2 linked regions of the Homo sapiens genome follow. The protein of the gene in region 1 purifies or fractionates together with the protein of each later gene. This does not show direct contact. Each region holds a gene or a part of one and is shown on either strand. Other genes may lie near its edges.

Region 1 (3,500 bases):
TCTAAGGAAGTGCTCTTTGTACTGTCTCCTATTTATGTGGAACAGGAACATGTAATGAGAAGAGTTTCCCCTTGCTGTATGTCAAGGTTTCCTGCTGTTCAATATAGTCTAAGGGTTGATATTCAATATACATTGTATATTCAAATCATCATTCTGCTACTAATGTAGGCATAGGAATGACTGGATGCCAGAATTCTAATGAAGAACAAATTCAGCTAACTGGTAATTCATTAATTGAAATCTAGGATTAACTGATGTTTTATGTATATACATTTACTTTCATCAGAAATAAAATAATAAAAACATTGATACTAGGGATTATATGTTAAAATGTATATGGAGATGGATGAATAAAGGCCTTCCCTTATGAAAAAAAAGGTATATGGAAGATTGGAGTTAGTCTGCATTACTGTTTATTAAATAGTTTACTCTTCTTAAAATTAATTCTTAATTTGATCAAAGGAATAAGTGAAAAGATAGCATAAATGGTAGTTCCCTGCCCCGTATCCTCCTCCTAGGGTTAACTACTTTTAACTCTCTCAGCATTTTCTTCTTTTTGTTTTTAAATAATAATAAATGGAAAAGTCTTGATTTTATCAATTTTATAAAAAATTGGGGAGTTATTTCTGGAATTAAAAATTCATTTTTATTTTCATTTGCTTCATTTTCTTTGAACTTAAGATTAAATCTTTCTTCATCCTTTGTCATCTCTACAGTCTGTCAGTTCTATTTTGTTCCCAGAGATCTTCCTGTATTTCATTATTGATTGCAAAAGAACCCCTATACTGTCTAACAAATAATTGGTTTGTCAGCATGAAGGCTACTTGGCAAAGTATGAGTTTCTGAAGACTAACTACTCCCTCCTGGTTTTCTTCCTCTCCCAAATGGCTTTATGATTTGGAGACTGAAGTGTTCCTGCCTTCATATCTGATCTTTTTTTTTTTTTTTTCTGTCTTACTGGTTTGACTGAAGAAAAGATTAATAATTGAATAAGGTCATTTCTACCCTTTGGCGAAAGTAAGGTTCTTTTTGTTTTAACATAGCGTCTCAATAAAGTCTTACCAGCTATCTTGTGGCCTCTAGAACCTGTCTATAGCTCTCCAACACTGAAAACAGAGTTCCTATCTATGCCTGTAAAGCATTCACCTTCTGTCTGAAAGGCATCTGTGGGTGTCTGCTCATTTGCAGAGTGAAAATGACAGGTCCTTTAACAAATGGCAAAAGTTAAACTCCTTCTGGGTTCAGGTTGTTAGCTCTGCTTGCTTTCTGTTTAATAACTTTCCACACAGGGGTTTCCTCCTCTTTCTTACCCTTCAACTTACTGATTTTCTGTGAATCCTGTCTTTGCCACTTTATAATTCCAAACATCATTCATTCATTAAGCAAATGTTTATTGAGTGTTTACTATGTGCCAGGCACTCTTCTAGGTGCTGGGGATATAGGGATGAACAGCATACTCACACATATAGTCTAGGTAGGAAGACAAGGAAAAATACAAGTTTTTTCAAAATGTGGTAAATGCTGTGAAAAAATTGTAGGATAATATGATAAAAGTGATTGCTGCTAACGTAAAAAAGGTTAAGAAGGTTTGAGGAGGTAATGTTTGATTTGAGAATTGAATGAGCAGAAGCCAGCCATGTGTAGAGAAGAGGGGGAAAATAGTTCAGGCCAGAGGGAACAGTTGTATGAAGACACTGAGATGGAAAAGAGCCTGAAGTGAAGGCCTGCATGGCTGGACCATGGGGAGAGAGTGGTAGGTGATGAGATCAGAGAGAGACCAGAACCATGTCATGGAGGACCTTGTGGACCACAGTAAGGACTTTGGATTTTATTCTCTGTGCAGTGGGAAGCTATTGGAGGTTCTTAAACAGGGGACTGATATGGTCTGATTTGCATTTCAAAAGTTTACTCTGGGCGTTGTGGGGAATAGGGGACCAGTGCACTCACCAAAGTAGAGTATGTGGTTTAAAAAAAAATTTAATTGCGGCCGGTCGTGGTGGCTCATGCCTGTAAACCCAGGACTTTGGGAGGCCGAGGTGAGCGGATCACGAGGTCAGGAGATTGAGGTCATCCTGGCCAACATGGTGAAACCCCATCTCTACTAAAAATACAAAAATTAGCTGGGTATGGTGGCACGTGCCTGTAATCTCAGCTACTTGAGAGGCTGAGGCAGGAGGATCACTTGAATCCTGGAGTTGGAGGTTGCAGTGAGCCGAGATTGCACCACTGCAGTCCAGCCTGGCAACAGAGGGAGACGCCATCTCAAAAAAAAAAAAAAAAAAAATTAATGCCCACTACGGGAAGAGCAAGGATTCCCTTCAATGTTTTTTCCCCTGGGAATAAAATGTAGAGGTCACGGAAAGTATTTTTGATTATGGGGCATAATCTGGAACTATTTACCTGCTTCATGCTGACTTCTTGTGCATGATCCCAGATGATACCAACATTGGAGTACCCCACTGCTGAAAGGTCTCCATCTTTTAGGATAGAGAGATTTGCAAATACCCATGTCACATTTAGATTATCTGATGCTTCCATTTATATTTATAAACAAATTAAAGTGGATATAGAAGTTACTTGAAAGTGTAAAATGTTAGACAGTTATGGCATAGTATCACTTTTTTGCTATACTTGAGTTATTTAATTTTGGAAATTGCCCTCCCTAATTTACATTTTGCTTTTTTTTTTTTTTTTGAGACAGGGTCTCACTCTGTTGCCCAGGCTGGAGTGCAGTGGTGCAATCTTGGCTCACTGCAGCTTCCGCCTCTAGGGTTCAAGCAGCTCTCCTGCCTCAGCCTCCAAGTACCTGGGATTACAGGCAGACGCCACCATGCCCAGCTAATTTTTGTATTTTTAGTAGAGACGGTGTTTCACCATGTTGGCCAGGCTGGTCTTGAACCCCTGGCCTCAGGTGATTCACCCAACTCAGCCTCCCAAAGTGCTGGGATAATAGGAGTGAACCATCGCACCTGGCCCTCATTTTGCATCTATTTTAATGCTTCAATTACACTCCTTCAGAAAAGCTTTAAAAGATTCCTTTTATTAACAGTATTTAATGTTCCTCACTAGGGAACTCCAACTGGGGCACACAGCCTTGGAGACTCTTTATCATCCCAAGACTGCAGTAGAATTATGATTAGAAGAAGCAACTCTGGTTAAATTTTTTTTTTTTTCCGAGACAGAGTCTTGCTCTGTTGCCCAGGCTAGAGTGCAGTGGCACAATCTCGGCTCACTGCAACCTCTGCCTCCCAGGTTCAAGCGGTTCTCCTGCCTCAGCCTCCTGAGTAGCTGGGATTACAGGCATGCGCCACCACACCTGGCTAATTTTTGTATTGTATTAATGGATTAATTATTGTAATTTTGTATTTTTAGTAGAGACCGGGGTTAGTAGAGACCACCATGTTGGTCAGGCTGGTTTCGAATTCCTGATCTCATGATCCGCCCACCTTGGCCTCCCAAAGTGCTGGGATTACAGGCATGAGCCACCGTGCCTTGCCAAC
Region 2 (3,500 bases), on another chromosome or scaffold:
TTTCCAAAACAAATAGGCCTACATTTCACCTTATCTACTACTGTTGTGAAGGCATGCATTTTAGGAATACAAAACACACACTTTAGGAAATGTGTATTCTATTCAAGAAGTATTTACCTTGACTTTTTTTCTCAGTAAAGTTTATAATATTCTGCCCCTACATGTAAATTAAAGTGCAGGCTGCCTCTAAATAATGCAACTGTTTGCCAAATAAAGTGAACAAATAAGTTATACCATACTTTCAACGTATTTACGCCTGACCAAGACTTCCCCATATATATTCAGCTCATTATCTTCAATTTGTTCCATTATGCACTTCACAGTTAGGGATGTAATCCAATCCCCACAAAGGCTTATGCTCTAAAACATAAACTTAAGCCATCTTTAGATGGCTTAAACACCCTAGGAAAATGTTGCTGTTTAAAATAGTTATTTCTGACAAAAATAAAATCAATCAGTAAGAAGACATTTTTAGAAAGGCTCTTTCAGTAACAAATCAAATTTTACATACCTGTAATATCAAGAACTGTAGGAAATTCAGTGTAGTATCTATGAACTGTTTCAAGAAGTTGAGCACCATGGCCTTGACCTTGAAATGGAGTCAAAATCAGCATCTGACTACAGTAAAGAAATTATTTTAAAATTAAAATATCATAACATGACCAGTTTAAAACCTGCAGATCACTATAGTATTACAAACACTTTAAAGTTTGTGTGATCTTTTTTTCAATCCACCTTTGAGATACCCAAAAATTATCAAGATACTCAAAATTAGTTTAATCTTCTACACTGTTTCAAAGGGAACAATGAAATAAATCAGTACATAGCCCATGAATAATAGTGATTTTTTTTTTAAACAAATCAACACTATTATAACAAGTATTGGAAACTTCAGCAGTTCCTTCTTCTGAAATAAAAGACAAGGCACGTGTTATACTGCCAATTACCTTACACGTGGCCGGGTTTTGTCTGGGTACACATAGTAATTATAGACTGTCATGTAGCCTACGGTCGCAAAGAGCGTAGCTCCATCCTTATTATACTTCTCAAATCTGCAGATAAAACAGAAAGCCAAGCAGGTCAATTACAGTCGCGCTCCCATGCAGTGTCCATTTTCTTTTCCATTCTCTGACTGAATTTTCAGTGTCAGCAAGCTACTCTGTGAGGGCCCAATGGGTACACCTGCTATGTTCTGAATGTACAATTCACTTAATTGGTGTGCAGCAACTTGGATAAATCAGACCTCTTTACATCACTTCAGTGCACTTGCCTATTATAAAGATGAATAGGTGGCAAGTAAAAGAAAACACAGGCAAAGCTCATTTTACTGTTTAAGCCTACATTCAGGGCCCTAACGGACAACAGCATTTAATTCAGCTCTATTCTCAAGGTCTCCCAAAGCATAATGAAGGAAAACTCAAGCCTCATAAACAATAGTTTTTCTTTCCTGGGAAAAATATCATTATACTGTCCCAATAATTGGGCTGCCACAATTAAAATGCTGGCTTTGTGGAGGTAATAAGGTCTACTGTTGCTTTAGAACTGTACTTACACTAGAAAGTAGTGCCATCTTTCATCATCCACGTCAATAAAGCTAGCAGTTTCAATAAACCACATCAAAAAGGTCTGAAGCCTTTCATGATATTCTCGAAAGCCTCTACATGTCATGTCAGCCTAGGGAAAAAGCCAGGAAAAGTCAGGTGAAACTCATCACAAAGGTAAGTGAAAGTCCGCAGAACACAAAATTATCCTGTGGGAAAATGTTTAGAAGTCTCAGATTAAGATGTGAACATAGATACAGACATACACACAAAATAGATCTTGGTTTATAATGCTGATTAAAACTTGTTTACTGCAGTTAGAATAAATCACTGACAACAAAACTACATACAGGTTTCAGGCAAATAGAACTTTACTCAATAAATATTTAGATTTATCTTTACCTTATATATCTGAAAGGTAAAGTTTTCTCCTCCTGTTGGACTGAGAACTGAGTAGGTATGAAGTAAGGTTCCGAATGGCTTGAAATCAACTTCCTTTTCCAGTAAAGAAAGGAAATCATTCGTGTTTGTGCAAAATCCAGGTGGAATGATTTGTCTAATTTTGCCCTCAACATCATCTGCCTAAAGAATAAAGGATATAAAAAATTAATAACAAATTCGACTTTAAGTTGAATATGGTTTATTTCTTTAAAACTGACAAAACCAACACAAATTACAAAACTTTGGTTGAAAACTAAAGAAGTAAACACACAGCGAATTGGAAAAGGATGAGCTTCCTGTGCACAAACTGCATCACACAAAACTGAGATGAGCATAATATAAAAGTAAATAAGAGAAGGCAGGTGACCTGATACCAAGTACAATAATAAGGGCAATGCTATGGACATTTCCATTATGCAGAAACAGCTGACTATACCCCTTCATGACAGTCTGAACTGGCCAAGGCAAAAGGTTGCTTATTATTTTATATGTGTCAAAGAAATCATATTATCCAAGACATGAAAAGATCACCAGCAGTGGTGAGATGAGACTAGAGTCTGACCAAATGAATAGCAATCTCACAACTAGATGGGTCACAATTCCCTCATATGCCAAACTCAAACTAAGATGATAACTTAAAAATATACATATTTAGGAAATAACATAAATTATATGAATGGATATATCATTCTTTTATCCTTAGAATGTGACACAATTCTTACAGACCTGGATTTGTGACAGTAAAAAAGAGACAAGACTGGACAACAAAACTAAACTCGGAGATTAAAATTACCCTTGTTAAACAACCTCTATCAATGTTATCAGCTGAGCAGACTTCATAATCCTTTTCAAAATCCCAAAAGACCACTTGATTGAATACATTTACTACTTCTCTTTAACCATGAATATTTGATGAAGTCTTACAATAAAGTATTGCTGCTTCTCACCAGGCAATAAAACTTAATGAATTGGTCTCAACTTAACAAAACCTTATCCCTCAATACAGTCCCTAAAAGCCTGACATTACATTCAACAAAATGAGCTTGTATTCTATTCAAACTTTTTCCTGAACAATGAGGCCAGGTTTTTACTTAATGGAGTTTGCCGTGAGTTCAGCTGTAATGTTTGTATTGTATCTATTTCCACAAGGACTGACACAAGAACACTTTGTGTTAACTTACTAAGCAGCTCTTTCATACCGTTTACATGCATGATGGGTATTAGTTCTAAACCAAGACCCTTGCTACTTAGCATTCAAAACAGGGAAATTAAGATGCTTAGGACAAAATACACTACAAAAGGCTAATACAACATGCTACTAATTCCTATCCTTTCAACCATCTTTTAACTAAGTAGAAGCAATGCACCTGCAGATGAATAGCACTTTATTATGATTCAGTTACATTTCAGGATAGAGAACCAGTGATGACGTTTATCACAAACAAGTTTTATTTTCAATGCTCTGGTACCACCAACATTTATATATAATTTGTTTATAGGTATAAAAAAGACCTATTA

Evidence for each region. Proteins that work in one complex are often made in the same cells at the same time.
Region 2: the proteins of UBN2 (region 1) and HAT1 purify together in Homo sapiens (affinity purification with mass spectrometry, with the first as the bait; one large-scale study listed by BioGRID). This does not show direct contact.

The regions. Positions count from the first base shown.
Region 1 is NC_000007.14:139,286,737-139,290,236, forward strand, and holds part of UBN2 (ubinuclein-2), read left to right. Parts: intron 1-3,500.
Region 2 is NC_000002.12:171,963,961-171,967,460, reverse strand, and holds part of HAT1 (histone acetyltransferase type B catalytic subunit), read right to left. Parts: intron 2,124-3,500; coding exon 1,944-2,123; intron 1,675-1,943; coding exon 1,553-1,674; intron 1,053-1,552; coding exon 948-1,052; intron 619-947; coding exon 512-618; intron 1-511. UniProt on the Homo sapiens protein: Histone acetyltransferase that plays a role in different biological processes including cell cycle progression, glucose metabolism, histone production or DNA damage repair. Coordinates histone production and acetylation via H4 promoter binding.